Linked DNA regions of Homo sapiens. The protein of the gene in region 1 interacts with the protein of each later gene in a pairwise test. Each region holds a gene or a part of one and is shown in the gene's direction. Other genes may lie near its edges. The genes, in order: MAPKBP1, TRIM42, KRTAP6-3, APTX, KRTAP13-1 and ZNF34.

The links.
Region 2: the proteins of MAPKBP1 (region 1) and TRIM42 interact in binary tests that used the Homo sapiens proteins (3 or more experiments, as listed by UniProt).
Region 3: the proteins of MAPKBP1 (region 1) and KRTAP6-3 interact in a two-hybrid assay, tested with the Homo sapiens proteins (one large-scale study listed by BioGRID).
Region 4: the proteins of MAPKBP1 (region 1) and APTX interact in a two-hybrid assay, tested with the Homo sapiens proteins (one large-scale study listed by BioGRID and IntAct).
Region 5: the proteins of MAPKBP1 (region 1) and KRTAP13-1 interact in a two-hybrid assay, tested with the Homo sapiens proteins (one large-scale study listed by BioGRID).
Region 6: the proteins of MAPKBP1 (region 1) and ZNF34 interact in a two-hybrid assay, tested with the Homo sapiens proteins (one large-scale study listed by BioGRID).

Annotation. Positions count from the first base shown.
Region 1 is NC_000015.10:41,812,324-41,816,170, forward strand, and holds part of MAPKBP1 (mitogen-activated protein kinase-binding protein 1), read left to right. Parts: intron 1-192; coding exon 193-330; intron 331-595; coding exon 596-778; intron 779-1,006; coding exon of another isoform or gene 1,007-1,024; intron 1,025-1,297; coding exon 1,298-1,458; intron 1,459-2,226; coding exon 2,227-2,416; intron 2,417-2,935; coding exon 2,936-3,082; intron 3,083-3,300; coding exon 3,301-3,476; intron 3,477-3,847. UniProt on the Homo sapiens protein: Negative regulator of NOD2 function. It down-regulates NOD2-induced processes such as activation of NF-kappa-B signaling, IL8 secretion and antibacterial response. Involved in JNK signaling pathway.
Region 2 is NC_000003.12:140,684,459-140,688,305, forward strand, and holds part of TRIM42 (tripartite motif-containing protein 42), read left to right. Parts: intron 1-3,263; coding exon 3,264-3,847.
Region 3 is NC_000021.9:30,591,185-30,593,784, forward strand, and holds KRTAP6-3 (keratin-associated protein 6-3), read left to right. Parts: upstream 1-1,255; 5' UTR 1,256-1,282; coding exon 1,283-1,594; 3' UTR 1,595-1,871; downstream 1,872-2,600.
Region 4 is NC_000009.12:32,991,491-32,995,337, reverse strand, and holds part of APTX (aprataxin), read left to right. Parts: intron 1-3,847. UniProt on the Homo sapiens protein: DNA-binding protein involved in single-strand DNA break repair, double-strand DNA break repair and base excision repair.
Region 5 is NC_000021.9:30,394,562-30,397,394, forward strand, and holds KRTAP13-1 (keratin-associated protein 13-1), read left to right. Parts: upstream 1-1,469; 5' UTR 1,470-1,525; coding exon 1,526-2,044; 3' UTR 2,045-2,261; downstream 2,262-2,833. UniProt on the Homo sapiens protein: In the hair cortex, hair keratin intermediate filaments are embedded in an interfilamentous matrix, consisting of hair keratin-associated proteins (KRTAP), which are essential for the formation of a rigid and resistant hair shaft through their extensive disulfide bond cross-linking with abundant cysteine residues of hair keratins.
Region 6 is NC_000008.11:144,780,677-144,784,523, reverse strand, and holds part of ZNF34 (zinc finger protein 34), read left to right. Parts: intron 1-66; exon of another isoform or gene 67-199; intron 200-2,650; exon of another isoform or gene 2,651-2,697; intron 2,698-3,558; exon of another isoform or gene 3,559-3,649; intron 3,650-3,847. UniProt on the Homo sapiens protein: May be involved in transcriptional regulation.

The DNA of each region.
Region 1 (3,847 bases):
CTTCTGCAGGAAACGAATCTTTTCAGCTCCTCTAGAAAGGGATTATTTCCCTACCCCTCTTTTTCTGGCCAGTAAATTCTGGAAAGAAACACTTTGTCAAGTACAAATTCTAATTCTCCTCCATTCTCTGAGTCACTGTCTTCTTAGCTCCAAGAGACAGAGCCTTGATTCTTCCTTTGGCATCCCCTCCAGAAAAACATTGTGGTGGCCTCCAACAAGGTGTCCAGTCGGGTGACAGCAGTGTCCTTCTCTGAGGATTGCAGCTACTTTGTCACTGCAGGCAACCGACACATCAAATTCTGGTATCTCGATGACAGCAAGACCTCAAAGGTGAGGTGCTGAAGCTGGGAGTAGCCACCAAGGCCCCTGGCAGGGCCTGCCCAGCCCAACCCAGGAGACTCTGCCCCACTTGGGCCTCTCTCTGCATTCCCAGCAGTCATGCAGAAGTTTTGGATGAGCCAGATGCTGTCTGGGCTGAGGAGTAGGCCCAAAGAGCAAGGAGGTGCTGGAGGCGTCCCCTGTACTCTCCTAGGGCCCAGTTTCCAGGGGCAGGCTCTGGGGTGGATGGGGGTGTAACAGTGGTGTGCCTCCACAGGTGAATGCCACTGTGCCCTTGCTGGGCCGCTCAGGGCTGCTGGGAGAGCTACGGAACAACCTATTCACTGATGTGGCCTGTGGCAGAGGAAAAAAGGCGGACAGTACCTTCTGCATCACGTCCTCAGGGCTGCTGTGCGAGTTCAGTGATCGAAGGCTTTTGGACAAGTGGGTGGAGCTGAGGGTAAGTACCTCCGTCCCCAGGGGTAGGGTCTGCTCATGTCTCAGCTCAGGGGAGAACTAGTGCCCAGGGCTTCAGACTAGGGGCTGGTCCCTTGTGCATACGGGAGATCCCAGGAGAACGAAGCTTGGGGGAGCTAGAGCTTGGCCCATTTCCAGCCCTTGGTGATCTGTATAACTGCCTCCTCTCTGCTCTTTCTGTCTCTTTCCCCTGCTTTCCTCTTCCGCTCAGAACATAGACAGCTTCACAGTAAGTGGTGCCTGCACCTTCCTCTCTTTCTCATGCTATTTCTTTCTCTTCACTGGGCTTTTCCTACTGGATCCTCTGGTGCCTAGAAGAATCCTCGGTTCCTAATCCCTGGCTGGACAGGGCTGAGGGGCTCAGAACAGGGCAGCTGGGCGGCTTTTCCCTTGCCCCTGCCTTGGCCGGTCCCTCCTCTTGGCAGGTGGCTGTTGATGGGTGGGGAGGAGAGAAGACTGAGTGGGCAGGTGGCCTTGCTGAGCTGAGCCACTCTGCCCACAGACCACAGTGGCCCACTGCATCTCTGTGAGCCAAGACTACATCTTCTGTGGCTGTGCTGATGGCACCGTGCGCCTTTTCAACCCCTCTAACCTGCACTTCCTTAGCACCTTGCCCCGACCCCATGCTCTGGGGACAGACATTGCTAGCGTCACCGAGGCCAGGTGAGCTATGTGGGCCCCCCTTCCTCCATTTGTAGCCTTACCCCTGCCCAGTCTTTCTTGTCAGTGCCTCAGGGAGCAGGTGAAGAGTGTATTGATGCCCCAAAGATTATTGGGAACACCTCTTTAGACAGAAGAATTTGGGTTTATTGGTACTTGTTGCAACCAAGGAGACCCCACCCCATGGAGAACTGTGGAGAGTCTCAGTAAGTGGGTGTTAGGAGGGACATATGGGATTTGGGTTTGCGTTGGGTGATTTTAGGAATCGTTCAAGGGATTGAAGTATTCTGGTTGGATGCTGTCCGGAACTAGGGGCAATTCTACAGTGGAACATCTTGTTAATTTATCTAAGAGGTGAAGGAAAGGTATGGGGCTAAAGCTGTATTTGGTCAAGAAGCCGCCAGCAGTCATGTAGATGGGAAAGGCGGTGTTTGGTCATTGTCATGGTTCGTTGTGGTTTGTATGGTGATCTTGTTTTTATCTGTGCACAGAGTAGTCTTGTTTTTGTTTTGCCCCATCACAGCCATAGAAGTACCTTGTCTAACGTTGGTGTTCTGTGAAGCTGTGTTCATCCGAACACCATGGCCCAGCAGCTAGTGCTGGGTCAGGTTCCTGCTGATGGCTAGTAGGGGCTCCTTTCTTCTCTCAAGCAACTACTTCCAAACCTGCAGGTCCAGGGAGGGCTCCTCACACACTGCTCCTTCCATTGTGGATTGGCTTCTCTTTTCATTCCCTTCAGTCTGACCAGTGTGCCCTGTCCTCTCCCTACAGTCGCCTCTTCTCTGGAGTGGCGAATGCCAGGTATCCAGACACCATTGCCTTGACCTTTGATCCTACTAATCAGTGGCTGTCTTGTGTGTACAACGATCATAGCATTTATGTTTGGGATGTGAGGGACCCCAAGAAAGTGGGCAAGGTGTACTCGGCTCTGTATCATTCTTCCTGCGTCTGGAGTGTGGAGGTATGTGGGCTGGCTGGCTGGCTGGAGACTGGCCAGGTTGGCTGGGATACCATTTTGAGGACAGAAAATAGGGATCCCCAAGTATAATCTTAGATTCCTGCTGCCTCCCTGTTTCTCCAGTGACTTCCCTGGGATAGATCCTGGGGACTGAGTTTGAATGTTACAGGCTTCCCCAGTGTGCCCCATCCTTAGTTTTGCCTCGGTCATCTTGGACAAGTTATTGAATTTGACCAAGCCTCAGTTTCCTCACCTGTAAAATGGTGTACTTGATTCACCTAATTGTTCTAAGAATAAAATGAAATAATGTAAGTGGGAGACATAGAAGAGTGCCTGATATATAGTGGGTGCTTCCCCTTGGTCATGTTGAAGGGTATATACCAGTTATGTATGGCCTGTGACAGGCACTGGGCTAAGTCCTGGCCACCATTCCCTTTTTCGTCCCATTCCCTTCCATCTCCTTGGGTAGGCAGAGGACTGCTCCCGAATGGAGGTCTGATTGTGTTCCCTCGGCCTCTTCAGGTCTACCCCGAGGTGAAGGATAGTAACCAGGCCTGCCTGCCCCCCAGTTCCTTTATTACCTGCTCCTCAGACAACACCATCCGCCTGTGGAACACAGAGAGCTCCGGGGTGCATGGCTCCACCCTCCACCGAAACATCCTCAGCAGTGTGAGCCCTGAGGCTGTGGGGCCCCGCTTCACCCTCAGTGCCCCCATCCCCACAGCTATTGCACCTTGTTACTGGGAACTGGTCCCTAGGCCTTGGCCTTCCAGCCTTCATTTGGCTGTGCTCTGTGGTCCAAGGGTTTGTTTTGCTCAGCTTTCTTGCCCCTTGCAGCTGTACTGGTCAGGCCTGCCTCATCCACCTTTTCTAACCTGTTCCACTAGGACCTCATTAAAATCATCTATGTGGATGGGAACACCCAGGCCCTGCTGGACACAGAGCTGCCTGGAGGAGACAAAGCTGATGCATCCCTGTTGGATCCCCGCGTGGGCATCCGCTCGGTGTGTGTCAGCCCCAATGGACAGCATCTAGCATCAGGGGACCGTATGGGCACACTTAGGTAATGCCAGGCCCTGGGTGGGTACTGACTGCCTCTCATGGTGCAGAGTTGGGTATTTAGAACTTTAGGGAGGGTTTGGCTCAAAAAGATTGGGCAACAAGATACTTATTTACAAGGCAAAGATAATAACTTCACAATGAGTAAACCTAGCAGAAATCATCTTCACCAAGTGATCAAGGTTAACATCCTCATATCAACATCATTAAGCCCATGATAGGATGTACTAAGAAGGATGTGACAATGTTTCTGTGGTATTCTTACCAAAAATGCATAAACTCAATATAGGCGTGAGAAAACATCCGACAAACTCACATTGAGGTACATACCACAGAGTAACTGATCAATACTCTTCAAAAACGTCAAGATCATGA
Region 2 (3,847 bases), on another chromosome or scaffold:
TAGTCTCCATCATTCAGATAGGCCTACACATTTGGGAGGGAGGCAGCTTTTCCTTGACCTGCACAGAAAGGTCCCATTGGATGTAAAGGTGGGTCAGAAACAGGCTTTGCTAATGACCACATCACCCCGGACCTCTCAGTAGCTTCAGGAATACCTTAATTTTTCTCAATGGCCACATACCTGGAAACCTTGCTTGTCAATTGACATTTATTTAATTTTGGAACCACCACCAGGGAAGACTTCATATTAAAGGAACCCTGCAGGAACCACATTACCAAGAAAATGGTAGAACTGTTGGTTCCAAAAGGGTTTTCTGAAGGTGGGACTCACTGCCTCCCTAGGCCAGGGCTTGGCTGGATTCTTTGGGTCCTCAGCATGGTGAAGGCACTGCCGCCTACAACCTACTGTGCCTTCCATCCCTCTGTAGAGAACCTCGTCCTTAATACAGGAGAAACTTAGGATAGTTTTCTGAGTCCAGGGCACCTAAAATTTGAGCAGACAACAAAGCTCAATTCAAGGTGGGGGGAAAATGCCTGTCCAAATTCCAGGAAACCCAGCAGTTGGAAAGGGAAAAAGGGATAATTGGTAAATTAGATATTAGCTGTAAGTAAAGAATTTAACCTTTCATCCTTGCTGAAGAAACAGACACACAAAAATTTTTTAACCAGGGTTCAAACTTGTTCGTGAGCATTTGATTCACTTTTCTGGGAGGTACCATAAATTGGCATTCTAAACAGATCTCCAGGTTATTCAAAAGCAAGTGATCTGGGAATACACATTGAGAAACTGGGGGACCTAGGGAGAAGATCCATTCTAGAAGCTTTACTAAAAACTGATGCCCCTGTCCCATCCACATAGAGGTGCAGGCTCAGCAAGATGGAATTTTAAAAAACTCCTCATGTGATTCTATGGTGCAGCCAAGGTCGAGAACCACTGAAATAAAGGGAGCTCAAAAGTTTAGGTCCCTGCCACTCAAAGTATGGTTCAAGGACCAGTAGCATTGGCATCACCTGAGAGCTTGTTAGAAATGCAGAATCTCAGGACCCACCCCAGGCCTAGTGCATCAGAATCTGCATCTTTATCATGATCCCAGGAGATTCTCTGGGTTCGATTCTAAACCTCACTGAAAACTGCCTCACCTGGCTTCCTGAGCCCCAACACAGGCCCATTGATTCAGAATCTTAGCAGATGAGTCCAAGAGAAGAGTTTTTTTTTAACACTCTCTCAGGTTATTCTGGTACTCAGAGAGGGCTGAGAGCCACAGCTGAAGCAATTAAGAACCTAGTTTGGAGCTAGACAAATAGAATTAGGGACAGAGCCTAGTTTCTCCCATTTACCTGATGTGTAACACTATACAGTCACTTAACTTCCCAGGGCCTCAAGCTTTTTCATCTATAAGTGGAAACAATATCTTCATTGTAAGAAGATATATGTGATAGATAAAAACATATGGATCTGGTCCATAAAAAGTGTTTAATAAATAACAACTAGTTTTAAGTGTATTGCCTAAAAGAGACCTTGATTTGACTTTGCTTTAAAATCAGCTCTTGCAGAGGTTTCATATTTGCAGAGGTTTGGGGTGGGACATTTGTGGCTTCCTCTGTCTTTTTTCTCCTCCTGGAGATGCCTTTTTCCTCTCATCTAAGAAATTTTTATCCTGCTTCTCAGGACTTTGCTCTACATAAGCCTAATCAATCCCTAATACAGCAAGAAATTTCCTATCCAAGTATCTTTAACAGTAGGTAACTATTGAATAGTCAAAGAAAATAATGCGCAAAGTAGAATTCTGGCTGCCACAGTCACAGTGCATTGGGGAAGGCAAGAAGCACTTCTCAGCACTGAAATCGGACCCTGGTAGTTTCCCTTTCAGTCTCACCTGCATCACCTCATCTTTTCTGAGCCAGTGTGAGGAAGGAGGTGGCAAGAAAACACTGGGGCTTCAGGGAGTTAGCCAGAGAGTGACACTGCTGGCATTCACCAATGAGTTGTTAGAAGACAGGAAAGAATGGCTTTTACTCAACAAATACATTTGCTCACCTCTACACACCATAGTCATAGTGGTAATGTGGTCCCTGTTCTCATGATCTGACAGAACACTAGGGTTTCCCATATTCAAGTGCACACCCTTGTTACAACGACCACCACTCACAGAAGTCCAGCTTCCTATGAACCCAGGATAATGTTATGAACCAAGTGCAAAAATAGCTAGTCATCCCCACTCCTGAGTAAAATTTGGTAAGGATTATTGCCCATCAATTCACTGAAGAGTTTACCTTTCATGAGAAGAACCTTACCCGTAGCATAGACCACAGAAGGGTGACATTCTTCAAATTGCTCCTTAATGCCTCAAATCCTTTAAAGCTAACAAAGGTATTCATTTCACCTTTCATATAAAGCTCATTTCACAGATAGAGATGTGCCACGTGCTTACCCTGCCATAGCATCCTTAAACTGTAGTATCTTTGGATTTATTCATACCTTGAGCACAGATGCCCTCTCATAATCATATCCATATTCTTAGTGCCTAAAAGATACATGGCATGTAACAGGGCTCCAGTAAATGTTTGTTGAATGACTGAGTGAACTTAAAATCCAAATGCCATATGAGGGGACACAGGGTAAACTGGTTTTCCTTGAAGTGTGACAGCAGACTCTTTTTTGAAAGGAGTGGGGGAAAGGCAAGGAGAAGTGACATAGCTGAACCACAAGAGGGACAAAGGGGGGAAAAGGGCATCTAAGAGAGCCACCTCAATGAAGGGAAGCTTTGCTGATTTCCCACTGTTGTATAGGGCTGGAGGCTTAGCGAATGATGCAAGACAACCTTTAGAAGTAGTCGGCAGAAACTTAGTTCTTCCTCTTACCACTGCAAAAGCTTAGGTTTCCTACAGGGAAAAGCAGGCACCAGTCATTTTGTGACTTCACCTCTTCTCAAGTCCAACTTGCAGACAACTGAAATCTGGTAAAAACCAATATCAAGGGTGGGCTTGAACTTCCAGTCTCAGACTCAAGGCCATAGGGATTACTGTTACAAGATAGAAATATCCCAGAGAAGGATCAGAGGGGGAAGAAGGGGAAGGGTGTACTAAGGAGGACCAAATTCATTTCATAAACCTATTCCAGCCTGTTTCAGCCCAACTACAAGTGCCTTCCCTCCCTCTTCATTCACCTCCTTGGAGCCTAGGGTAATTTGTTCTAGTTTGCTACTGACTTTGACACCTGGGGAGATGAAAATTTTAAAAGTAACTAACTTGGCATTTTTGCAGTCCGATATGAAATTGATAATGACCTAATGGAATTCAACATCTTAAAAAACAGCTTTAAAGCTGACAAGGAGGCAAAGCGAAAAGAGATCAGAAATGGCTTTCTCAAGTTGCGCAGCATTCTTCAGGAGAAAGAGAAGATCATCATGGAGCAGATAGAGAATCTAGAAGTGTCCAGGCAGAAGGAAATTGAAAAATATGTGTATGTTACAACCATGAAAGTGAACGAGATGGATGGTCTGATCGCCTACTCCAAGGAAGCCCTGAAGGAGACTGGCCAGGTGGCATTCCTGCAGTCAGCCAAGATCCTGGTGGACCAGATCGAGGACGGCATCCAGACCACCTACAGGCCTGACCCACAGCTCCGGCTGCACTCAATAAACTACGTGCCCTTGGACTTTGTTGAGCTTTCCAGTGCCATCCATGAGCTCTTCCCCACAGGGCCCAAGAAGGTACGCTCCTCAGGGGACTCCCTGCCCTCCCCCTACCCCGTGCACTCAGAAACAATGATTGCCAGGAAGGTCACTTTCAGCACCCACAGCCTCGGCAACCAGCACATATACCAGCGAAGCTCCTCCATGTTGTCC
Region 3 (2,600 bases), on another chromosome or scaffold:
ACTTTTCATCTTCTAGCAGAATTCCTGTTACTATTTTTTAAAGTGGTGACTTGGATAGAATAACATCAGCAAACCACATTTCTGGCCCAAATGCATTCTGGTGATAGCCTTAATTATGAGAGCTGACTTTCTATGAAGCTCCCTGTGATAATTTGTCACGTTTATTCCATCCACTTATTAAATATTATTAATGAATTATTAGTCATTTATTATGATAAAGCAATTAGAATAAAATATAAACAAATAATAGTACATATTAATTCATTTGCTACTCTTAAATGTAGCAGAACTACCAATGATCAACCTAGGGATCATACTTTGTAGATCAATGTGAGACTGGCAAAGTATCATATCAATAAGAGGCAAGTAGAACATTTAGTCAGAATTTCGGAACTGCACACAGTAGTTCATAAACTTTAGTGGATATATACCACCACCTTAACAATCGGAAAAGGCATGGATTCTCAAACCAGAAAAAAATCACCATGATAAATTCCTCCACTGGTTTGCATATGATCCAAAAGGATCCCAGAGTACATGAATTTATCCCCAGTTACCCCAAGCATAGAACAAAGATTGTGATTATTCTACACAGAATTTGAGTATAGAAAGTTGCATCATGTCATTCATTTGGTTATTTTTTCACTAATTCATCAAATCTTTATTAAGAATCTGCTGTATCAGGCACCGTTATAAGAAATGCAGATTGAGCAGATGAACAAAATAGACAAAGTCTCTACTTTCTGCAGGTTACAATGAGACAGAAGGGATAGAGAGACTGATTTTAAAAATGAATGAAATAGATTCTAACAGTGAAGAATCCTGTGAGAATAATAAAACTCAGTGAGTTACATTAAGTTCAGTTACTGGAGGTAGACTAATTAATATAAGGTGGCCATTAAAAGTCTCTCTGGGAAGTGAACATTTCAATTGAAATAGAAAATGAGTCAAATATTCCTGGTATTATTTTAAGAAAGAGAAATCAGTAAGTGCAGAGGCCAGGGCCTTATTGTGAGAAGAAACCTGCTGCATTTTAAAAGACAAAAAGCCAGCAGAGTTTGAGCATTATAGATAAATGGAGGAGAGTAGCAGGATATGAAATCAGAGAGATACGTAAGGGCCAGAACTTCTCAGCACAATGAAAGGCCTTTAGAGATATTTTTGCAGGGGCACGCTATGTTCTGATTCACTGAGGCATATAAAAGGCCCTCTGCGGAGAAGTGTCCATACTGAAGTCACCTACACTCCTTCCTACCCAAGGATGACCTCAACAACCAACACCATGTGTGGCAGCTACTACAGAAACTACAATGGTGGCCATGGCTATGGGTGCTGTGGCTACGGAGGCCTGGGCTGTGGTTATGGCGGCTGTGGCTATGGGTGCTGTGGCTACGGAGGCCTGGGCTTTGGCTATGGAGGCCTGGACTGTGGCTATGGAGGCCTGGGCTGTGGCTATGGCTCCTTCTGTGGCTGTGGCTACAGAGGCCTGGACTGTGGCTATGGCTGTGGCTATGGCTATGTCTCCCACTCCTTCTGTGGCTGTGGCTATAGGTGCGGCTCTGGCTATGGCTCCAGCTTTGGCTACTACTATTGAGGACACCATGGGAGACTCTCACCCTCTATCCTGTGACATTGCAATTCACCAATTCTGAAGCCCACATGCTCTGAGCCTTTCCCTTGATTGATGATATCCTGCAGTGGAAGTCTAATATGATCTGTTGTTGATCTACCATCTAACCCAAAAATACCCTGAGTTTCCATCATGAAGTGGGATAAGGTGAAGTTCACCTGTCACTTCTCCTTTTATCAGGATGATGGTGTCACAGTGACTCCTTTGATGACTTTCATGCTGTAGTTTGTTTCTCTGCTGACCTAATAAACACATTTAATCCACAAGAGAAATCTTGGTGTTTGTATCTTATTTATTGTCCAAAATTTTTTTCTTTGATTTTTTGCTTTTATCGTTATTTTTTTCAACTCTTATTTTAGGTTCAAGGGTTATATGTGTATATTTGTTACATGGGTGAATTGCATGCCACTGAGGTAATATGTGAAAGGTAGTTTTTCAACCCTTACCACCCCCCACCATCCCCACTCCAAGAGTCCCAGTGTCTATTGCTTTCATGTTTATATACATGTGCACTCAATTTTTAGCTCCTACTTATAAGTGAAAACCTGTGGTATTTGATTTTCTGTTCCTGCATTAATGTGCTTAGGATAATCACCTCCAGCTGCATCCATGGTGCTGCAAAGAATATGATTTCCACTCTTTGTTGTGGCTACATAGTATTCCATGGTGCACATGAAACACATTATCTTTTGTCAACTATTGTTAGACATCTGGGTTGATTCCATGTCTTTGCTCTTGTGAATAGCACAGCGATGAACAGACAAGTGCATGTTTCTTTTTGGTAGAACAATTTTTTTTTCTTTGGGTATATACCCAGTAATGGGATTGCTGGGTCAAATGGTAGTTCTGCTTTAAGTTCTTTGAGAAATCTCCAGATGCTTTCCAGAGTGACTGGAATAATTTAATATTCTCATCACCAGTGTATAAGCATTCTCTTTTCTCCACAACCTCACCAACACGTTTTAGTTTT
Region 4 (3,847 bases), on another chromosome or scaffold:
TGTTTATGTTAATATTTTGACCTCCTCCCATAAATTACAGATGTTCTTAAGGGCATCTAGAATGGTTGTATCCTTTTCAGAAGGTTTTCAATTTACTTTTTCCAGGTCCATCAGAAGAATCACAGTTGATAGCAGCTATACCCTTATGAAATGTATTTCTTAATTAATAACACTTGAAAGTCAGAATTACTCCTTGATCCATGGGCTGCAGAATGGATGTTGTTTTATCAAGCACGAAAACAATATTTATCTCCCTGTATAATATATCTCCATCAGGGATCTTGGGTGCATTGTCAATGAGCAGTAATATTTTGAAAGGAATCTTTTTTTTATGAGCAGTAGTTCTTAACAGAGATCTTAAAATATTCAGTCAGTCATGCTGTCGTCCAGGCTTTGTTGTTCCATTTATAGAGCACAGGCAGAGTGGACTGAGTATAATTCTTAAGGGCCTTAGGATTTCTGAAATGGTAAATGAGCGTTGGCTTCAGTTTAAAGTCTCCATCTGCATTAGTCCCTAACAAGACAGCCTGTCCTTGAAGCTTTGAAGTCAGGCATTGACTTCTCTCTACCTGTGAAAGTCCTAGATGGCATTTTCTTCCAGTAGCATCAAAGATCAAAGATCACTGATCACAGATCATTGTAACAGATATAATAATAACGAAAAAGTTTGAAATATTGTGAGAATTACTAAAATGTGACACAGAGACCTGAAGTGAGCACATGCTGTTGGAAAAATGGCACTGAAAGACTTGCTTGACACAGATTTGCCACAAACTGTCAATTTGTAAAAAATGCAATATCTTTCAAATGTAATAGAGCAGAGCACAAAGCAGGTATGCCAGTATGTATGTGTTTCTTGGGGAAGAGAGGAGAGAGAGGGATGGGCAAGTGGGACTAGTTCTGTGAAGAGGAACGGGAGGTGAAATACATAAGCACTGTGGAGTTACAGTATGATGAGCTTAACTTCAGGCCTGAGGGACTTGAGATGGATCAGGGCAGGGCAAGTTTCCAGGACTGTGGTGGATATTATGGTAGCCCCCCAGCCACGTGGAGTTATTTAACTATTAAGTAAAAAATGTAGTTTCTCTGTTGTACTAGCTACATTTTAGATGCTCGATTGTCACGTGGTGGGTAATTTATTGGACAGTTCAGGTTTAGAACATTTCCGTCATTGCAGAAAATTCTATTGGACAGCACTATTTGAGGTTACCTGATTTCTGGCCTTGTGTGGTCTATCAGATCACTTGAGTTCTTTAAGGAATAATCAGAATTTCTTTCTGACGGATCCCCTCAACTCTAGAATGAAAGATATAGAGCTGGGCCGGGCGCGGTGGCTCACGCCTGTAATCCCAGCACTTTGGGAGGCCGAGGTGGGCGGATCGCCTGACATCAGGAGTTCGAGACCAGCCTGGCCAACATGGTGAAACCCCGTCTCTATTAAAAATACAAAAAGTAGTCAGGTGTGGTAATGCACCCCTGTAATCCCAGCTGCTCAGGAGGCTGAGGCAGGAGAATTGCTTGAACCCATGAGGTGGAGTTTGCAGTGAGCTGAGATTGCGCCACTGCATTCCAGCCTGGGCAACAGCAAAACTCTGTCTCAAAAAAAAAAAAAAAAAAAGATATAGAGGTGAAAAATAGAGAATTGGGATTTATCCACCTAGATGTGAGAATGGATGGGATTGCCCAAAGAGAGGAACAGAGCATTCCATCGTAAGAAGAGCCATAGAAGGAAGGGAGAGAGAAGGCAGGAAAGAAAACTGGGATAATTATTACTCTCATGCAGAGAGTAAATAGCATTTGATAATTCACTTGTAAATATTTATTGTATGCCCGCTGTATGCCAAGTGTTAGATTAGGTGCTACAGATATATTGATAAGCGAAAATGGACATGACCTCTATTGTCATAGTTTTCAGTTTATGGAGTTTTACTGGAGGGACTGGGTTGAAGATTCAGGAACACCCATCCTTCTGCACTTGCCATATTGTAAAACACTCCATTTCTAAAAGTTGGAATTGGAGGCTGAAACGGGTGAAGTTACTATTTAAGGTTGGTTACATAACTGTTGTGCAGTCACTACTTCAGCTTCTCAGGAAGTAGTAAAAAGGAACACCATAACTTGAGAACTTTGGGGGAATAAAGTATCTGTATTGATGGAGGGCAGAAAGGGTAGTTCTTATTATCCTGCATCTGCCAGCCATGCTCTCTGCTGCTCACTGGATTCCTCTCTTGCCCTGCTCTCAAAATCTGTTCTCTTCTGGCTTCTCTTATTGTCAGTATGAGTAGTCAGTCACCACATATTTCCCAATGCCTAGTGAAGACATATTTCACTTCTCAGTCTGTTACCTGCTCATTCATCTGTTTCCAGCAAGTGCAAACAGATGCCCCTTGGAACGCATAGCATTTAAAAGTGGGACCTGCCCATAACACCATCATCATTTGAGGCTCCAGGTTTAGGATTTTAGATTTATAGCTGACTCTTCGTGCACCTGCATCAGCTCCTTCACAGAGACTTGCTGAACTGCCTTTTTGACCTCTCTGGCTCACGTTATATTAACAGCCTCCTCACTAATCTCTGACTCTGGATTTCTCCATGCTAGACTGCCTACACACAGCTGTTAAGTGTTCTTTGGATGCTGTTGTTTTATCTTACTGTGAAGCTCAAAACCTGGCAGTTGTCTCCTCTTGATTATGGTAAATGTAAACTTTTCAGCCTAGTATTCTTTCAACACCTCTGTCTTTTTTTGTGACTCTCCGAGGCAGCTCCTCTGGTTCAGCCAACTAAGTCTGCTTTTACCCCGACCTATGGCTTGCCATTGCCGAAATCTGTGTTGTCACTTGTGCTTTTTAAAATGGAATGGCCCCTCCCACTCCATTTCTTCTTTATCAGTCCCCTTGGCTCCTAGCCATCTCTAACCAGGAGGTTTCTGGAAGCCTGTACTGGCTAATACAGGACTTTTTACCTCCTTAGTACTCATATACTCGCACTAATCTTATTCATTTGAATTTGCATCTCCTCAGCTGTCATTTGCTCACTTTGCCTTGCATTGTCTTGTCTTTGCAGATGGTAATGAAACTGATTTTTAAAAATCGGGTTTCTTTTTTCTTTGCTTATGGACATGAAACTTGTGCAGAGGGCATATGTGCTGCCTTGACTATAGGCAGGTTTCCGGGAGAGGCATGTTAGAGGCTTGAGCACTGATAAGAGTCTGGAGTCTAGAGAGGCAATCTCTCTCTGCCCATAATTCCCTGTTTCACCTCATTGGGTGATCTCATCCTCTCTCTCTTTGCCTCAGCCTCTGTGACATGTTGATGCCTCTCAAATATATGCATTTAGTCCATTCCCCTCTCTTGAGCTTCATACCCACATATCACAGCTTGAGTCTTGGATCTTCCACAGGCAACTTAAAATAATTACATTTCAATATGAAATTGGTCCTTCTCTCTTCACTTTCCTTTTTATCCCCAAATTATGTCTCCTTGTGTATTTTTCATTTTTGTTAATGGGCATCTTCCAAATTTGAAGTCTTTGGTGAGTGTCTCGCCTTTTTTTTTTTTTCTTGAGATGGAGCCTTGCCCTATCGCCCAGGCTGGAATACAATGGTGCGATCTCTGCTCACTGCAACCTCCGCCTCCTGGGTTCAAGCAATTTTCCTGCCTCAGCCTCCCGAGTAGGTGGGAGGCACCTGCCACCACACCTGGCTAATTTTTGTATTTTTAGTAGAGATAGGGTTTTACCACGTTGGCTAGGCTGGTCACAAACTCCTGACCTCGTGATCCGCCTGCCTTGGGCTCCCAAAGTGCTGGGATTACAGGCCTGAGACACCGCACCTGGCCAGTGTGTCCTT
Region 5 (2,833 bases), on another chromosome or scaffold:
CTAGAAGACCCCTACAACCCTGGATCCACAGCTGTTTGCAGCCGATCCTCATGCAAATTGCCAACAGATACAGGTGGGAGGTGAACCAGGGACATCTGGACAAGAGGCGCACAATCTCAGGCTTGAAGCACTGCTGAAATGAAATGACAGAGGGTGTTACAGCTGTGGCGTTGCTCACAACAAATGGCAATGTTAAAAAAAAAAAACTTTTCTGTGTCATAAAAAATAATTCAAGTATTTTTGATGTACTATTTCTAAAAGAAACACCAAGTTTTACTTCCATTTGTTCTACAGAAAATCATGTGGACAAAACCATTGTCATGTGTAGAGATGATCAAAGACCGACTATGCAACCAAAAAATGTAGAAAAAGATTATAGATGAGGATGATGATAAAGGTATATTATTGTCTTGATTTTGTGACATCTTGGGTTTTGTTAACTATGGAAGTTTTTATTCTAAGTTAATATCCATGTTTATATCTATTATTATATTCCTAATATTGTGTTTTTAATGAGGATCTCCAAATTATACTTTTCAACACCACAAAACCTAAATCCACCTCTTTAAAGAGGGCTGGGACAGAGTCACGAAAAACATAGAAGCTGGTGTTACCCCGCAAATGCTCAGAAGGCAGTCAACATTTTGAGGTGGGGGTTTAGAGGTGTTGTAGACAGGTAGGCTCCAGAACACTTACAAATATGAATGCATCATACAAAAGTCATCAAATAAGTTTATTTGAAAGCATTTTGATTTGCTTTTAGGATGGAGTCCTGAGCATCCTTCTGCTATTGTGACTACTCTGACTTGTTTCCTACCTCATCTCAGCAGTGTCTTCTACTTTCCTTTTTTTCACATGGGTCCTTATTGTTGTATTTGTATTTATTTATTTTTTGCTTTTGTTTTGATTTCTTTTTTCTAAATACTAATTTTTTAAAAAAATTTGTTCAAGATGATATCTATGTCTAGTTATCTCTCAATTCCTTTGGCTTACTTTTATATAGGCCCTCGAGACTGGACTTACAAGCACTGATTATAGTAAATAACAGATGGCAAACTATTTTGGAGAGTGTGAACAATAAGATTTCTGCCTCTAGGCCACTGACAAAAAAAGATGAATACATTGCTATCCCCACCCAAGACAGAAAGAATTTCCCAGCCAAAACAGGAGCAGATGTATAAATCATGGGCAGAGAAAATAAGAGGGGTTTTCCTGGACATAATGGAGTAGGGACTAATCACATACTGTCATAGCATTTGTAACATAAATGCATTTCATTGACGCAGAGCTGTAAAAACAAAAGGAGTTCTTCCATAAATATAAGATGAAGGGTGTTAGTTAACTGCAATGACAAAGAAGATTACTAAGTTGCTTATATGAAATGTGGGAGCTTAAATGTGTGAAGGATGACCCTGTAAGGTGCCACACCCACGGCTGAACGTATATAAATGGTCCTGTCCAGATGTGGCATGCAAACTCAGAATCTTCTCAGTGTAACTCAGCTGAACTCACATCTCCCATCAACATGTCCTACAACTGCTGCTCTGGAAACTTCTCCTCCCGCTCCTGTGGTGGCTACCTGCACTACCCAGCCTCCTCCTGTGGCTTTTCCTACCCCAGCAACCAGGTCTACAGCACTGACCTCTGCTCTCCCAGCACGTGCCAGCTGGGTTCCTCTCTCTATAGGGGCTGTCAGCAGACCTGCTGGGAGCCCACCAGCTGCCAGACATCCTATGTGGAGTCCAGCCCCTGCCAGACCTCCTGCTACCGTCCCAGAACCTCCTTGCTCTGCAGTCCCTGCCAGACAACTTACTCTGGGTCTCTAGGCTTTGGATCCAGCAGCTGCCGCTCCCTGGGCTATGGATCGAGGAGCTGCTACTCAGTGGGCTGTGGGTCCAGTGGCTTCAGATCCCTGGGTTATGGAGGCTGTGGCTTCCCTTCCCTGGGCTATGGCGTTGGATTCTGCCGCCCAACCTACTTGGCTTCTAGGAGCTGCCAGTCTTCTTGCTACAGACCAACTTGTGGATCAGGCTTCTACTATTGATCATCTTGTTAAATTGCTGATTTTGTTGGCTAATGCCTTCAATGCCTCTACTCATAACCTTTATTGTCTTCATCATGTACAGAAAGAATTAGCCTCTTATTCTATAATTATCAAGTTCTCAGTTTGTCTTTGTCCCCAAATACTGGCTGGCAGGCTTCATCTGAAAAACTGTAATTGGAGAACTAGCTCAAAATAAATCTTGAAATACACATTAAAAGTAGAATTTATATTATTCGATTTTCTTCCACAATTGTATAAAAAGTCAAATCATTTTAATCCAATAAATCCATTGGTCTCATATTCAGCTATGTTTGTGGTGGTTTTATATTGCTAGGGTTTTGGTTGTGATGTATTAGGCAATTATTATGAAACAATTGGTGTATATATATAGGAATAGGTTTCAAAATCATATGAAGTTTGCGATTCAGACAAACTTTTGGGGGCCTCAGAGATTTTTGTTATTCAAACTACAGGTAGTGGAAGTCTACTAAATTTACAGACTTTTATTCATTAAAATATCAGAATCAGGAATTAGCTTGATCCCCTTATAAAATGTGGATTCTTGTGTCTATGCCAACAAGCATAAGGTAGCAAACTAGTTGATAGTTATATCAGGAATCTGCAGAGAAAAAAATACTATTTAGAACAATATGGTTATAGATATACATAAAAGAAAAATGGAATTGAAGAGAAACAAAAGTGATTTGAAGTAACTTTTGAAGTCACCCAATATTTGTTGGTAATCATGATCAAATGCCTGCATCTCATTGATGAGAATTCAATATGATT
Region 6 (3,847 bases), on another chromosome or scaffold:
CCTCCCAAAGTGCTGGGATTACAGGCGTGAGTCACCGTGCCCGACCTTTTTTTTTTTTTTTTTTTAATGTTTAGGTCTTCAACCTGCCTGAAGTATATTTGTGTACCACAGAAGGCAGGAAACTAATTTTATTTTCCAATGGAAAACCAGTTGTGCCAATACCATTTATTGTCCTTCTTCATTGCCATTAATATTGCAGGTATATTAACATATCCATAGATGTCTTCCATTATCTTTTTTCCTATACTTAAACTTCACTTTCCATTACCATAGCCTAAGTCTTGATATCTAGTAGGGCACACCCTTGCCTCCTTTGGTTGTTTTTTTGGTATTGCCTTAGCTAATCTTTTTTTTTTTTTTTCTGGAGACGTAGTCTCGCTCTGTCACCCACGATGGAGTGCAGTGGTGTGATCTCGGCTCACTGTAACCTCCGCCTCCCGGGTTCGCGCCATTCTCCTGCCTCAGCCTCCCGAGTAGCTGGGACTACAGGCGCCTGCCACCATGGCCGGGCTAATTTTATATTGTTAGTAGAGATGGGGTTTCACCATGTTAGCCAGGATGGTCTCGATCTGACCTCGTGATCCTCCCGCCTTGGCCTCCCAAAGTGCTGGGATTATAGGCGTGAGCCACTGCGCCTGGCCACACTGCCTTGGCTAATCTTAGATCGTTACTATTTCATGTGATATTTGGAGTCATTTTGGTCAGATATCATGTCCTGTTGAAATGTTTATTATAATTGCACAAAATAAATTTAACTTGGGGATAATTGATATCTTTATGTTATTGAGCCCTCCTATTTAGAAACATTGTCTGTTTCTCCATAGACCTTTCTAAGGTACTTCAATAAAGTTTTATAATGTTGTTCATTACATACATATCTTTTTTTAAGACTTAATGTACTGTATAGTTTTTGTAGCTATTGTGAATGGTCAGTTTTCGGTTGCTGATTGCTGACAAATAGAAGTGGTATTAATTATTCTCTGTTGACCTTGTATATGGCAATGCTGTGGAACTCCTGTCATTCCAACAGTGGATTGATAACTCTTGGATTTTCTATGTAGATTATTTTTATCATTCTCAAAGAATGATGATTTTGTCTTTTTTCTTCTGATCCTTGTAGCTTATATTTCTTTTTTCTGTAACTTACTGCTTTGGCTAGGATGTTGAATAGCAGCAGGGTGAGGGAACGTCCCTCTCTTGTCACTGAATCTACTACAAGTGCTTCTAATGTGTCCTCTTAGTGTTGCGAACACAAACTTGAATGCATGGAACCCCAGGGTCCCTGAGCCACACTCTGAGAACTACTGCTATGCTTCCCAGGGTCAAGTGATCCTCCCACCTCAGCCTCCCAAGTAGCTGGGACTACAGGCATGTGCCACCAATCCGTGCTAATTTTTTTTATTTTTTGTAGAGACAGGCTGAGCTTGAACTCCTGGGTTCAAGCCATCTTCCCGCCTTGGCCTCCCAAAGTATGGGGATTACAGGCATGAGCCAACCACACCTGGCCTTTTGCTCTTTTTTTTTAATCTATTTAAAATGGTTTTATTTTAACCTGGGAGCATAGATTCAAATTGCCCTAAATATACACTCTTTCCTTTTTTGTTCCTGATAACATTTCCTTTTCTACTTTTCCATCTATTTTCTTTTCTTTTTTTTTTTTTTTTTTTTTTTTTTTTTTTTTGAGATAGGCTTTGGTTCTGTCTCTGTCACCCCAGCTGGAGTGCAGTGGTACGATCTTGATTCACTGCAGCTTCTGCCTCCTGGGCTCAAGCGATCCTCCCACCTCAGCCTCCCAAGTAGCTGGGACTACAGGCACATGCCACCATGCCTGGCTAATTTTTGTATTTTTTGTAGAGAGGGGTTTTGCCATGTTGCACAGGCTGGTCTTGAACTCCTGGGCTCAAGAGATCCACCTGCCCTGGCCTCCCAAAGTGCTGGGATTACAGCCGTGAGCCACCGTGCCCGGCCCTCCTTGAGTTACTTTCTTATTCTGTATCTGATTTCTTTTCTTTTGTTTTTTGTTTTTTGTTTTTGGACAGAGTCTCACTCTGTCGCCCAGACTGGAATGTGCAGTGATGTAATCTCAACTCACTGCAACCTCCACCTCCCGAATTCAAGTGATCCTCCTGCCCCAGTCTCCCAAGTTACTGGGATTACAGGTTCACGCCACCATGCCCGGCTAAGTTTTGTTTTGTTTTGTTTTGTGTCGGAGTCTCACTCTGTGGCCAGGCTGGAGTGCAGTGGTGCGATCTCGGCTCACTGTAACCTCTGCCTCCCAGTTTCCAGTGATTCTCCTGCCTCAGCCTCCCGAGTAGCTGGGATTACAGGTGCCCACCACCATGCCCAGCTAATTTTTATATTTTTAGTAGAGACGGGGTTTCACCAAGTTGGCCAGGATGGTCTTGATCTCTTGACCTCGTGATCCACCCGCCTCAGCCTCCCAAAGTGCTGGGATTACAGGCGTGAGCCACTGCGCCCAGCCCCAAGTTGTGTATTTTTTAGGAGAGATGGGGTTTCACCATGTTGGCCAGGCTGGTCTCGAACTCCTGACCTCAAGTGATCCACCCGCCTCGGCCTCCCAAAGTGCTGGGATTATAGACGTGAGCCACAGCCTGCATTTGATTTCTTGCTGAATACTTATTTATTTCAGGCTTTCCTGTTAAAATGAGTCTATTAAGGATGCACAATTTTCTTTAGGTAGGCTTGGTTCTATTTCCACTTTAGTTTCCATTTCTATATGTCTCTGGGGAGAGGGTTACTTTTCATATATTTCTAATATAACAACAATATGGATAGAAATTGTTTTGCCAAATGATATATTCTTTTGGGATTTGTTGAAACTTTCTCTGTTGCTTTGTTTTTTTTGGTAATGTTCAGTATGTTGAAAACAATGTGTGTTCTCTATGTTTTAAGCATGAGATTGTTTACTTGACCCACTTGTTTCTGAGGGAAGTATGTTAAAAATCTCGACTGGTCATGGTGGCTCCTGCCTGTAATCCCAGCACTTTGGGAGGCCAAGGCGGGCAGATCACAAGGTCAGGAGATCAAGACCATCCTGGCCAGCACGGTGAAACTCCGTCTCTACTAAAAATACAAAAAAAATTAAACGCACCTGTGGTCCCAGCTACTTGGGAGGCTGAGGCAGGAGAATGGCGTGAACCCGGGAGGCAGAGCTTGCAGTGAGCCAAGATCGCGCCACTGTACTCTAGCCTGGGCGACAGAGTAAGACTCCGTCTAAAAAAAAAAAAACTCACTCCAGAGGAGGATTTACCAGTTCCTGTTTGGTAGATCCATACTGTTTGTAATTATTACAGCTTTTTGGTGGGCTTTTAGTAATATGCAGTGTTTTATTTTTATTTTTATTTATTTATTTATTTATTTATTTATTTGAGATGGAGTCTCGCTCTGTCGCCCAGGCTGGAGTGCAGTGGTGCGATCTCAGCTCACTGCAAGCTCTGCCTCCCGGTTCACACCATTCTCCTGCCTCAGCCTCCCAAGTAGCTGGGACTATAGGCCCCCGCCACCACGCCCGGCTAATTTTTTTTGTATTTTCGGTAGAGACAGGGTTTCACCGTCAGCCAGGATGGTCTCGATCTCCTGACCTCGCCATCCACCCGCCTCAGCCACCCGAAGTGTTGGGATTTCAGGGGTGAGCAACCACGCCTGGCCAGTAATATGCAGTGTTTTTTTTATTCCTATTAGTGATTTTCGCTTTCTTTGCTTTTCTTTTTTTGGAGATGAAGTCTTGCTCTTGTCCCCCAGGCTGGAGTGCGATGGCGCGATCTCGGCTCACTACAACCTCCGCCTCCCGGGTTCAAGCGATTCTCCTGCCTCAGCCTCCTGAGTA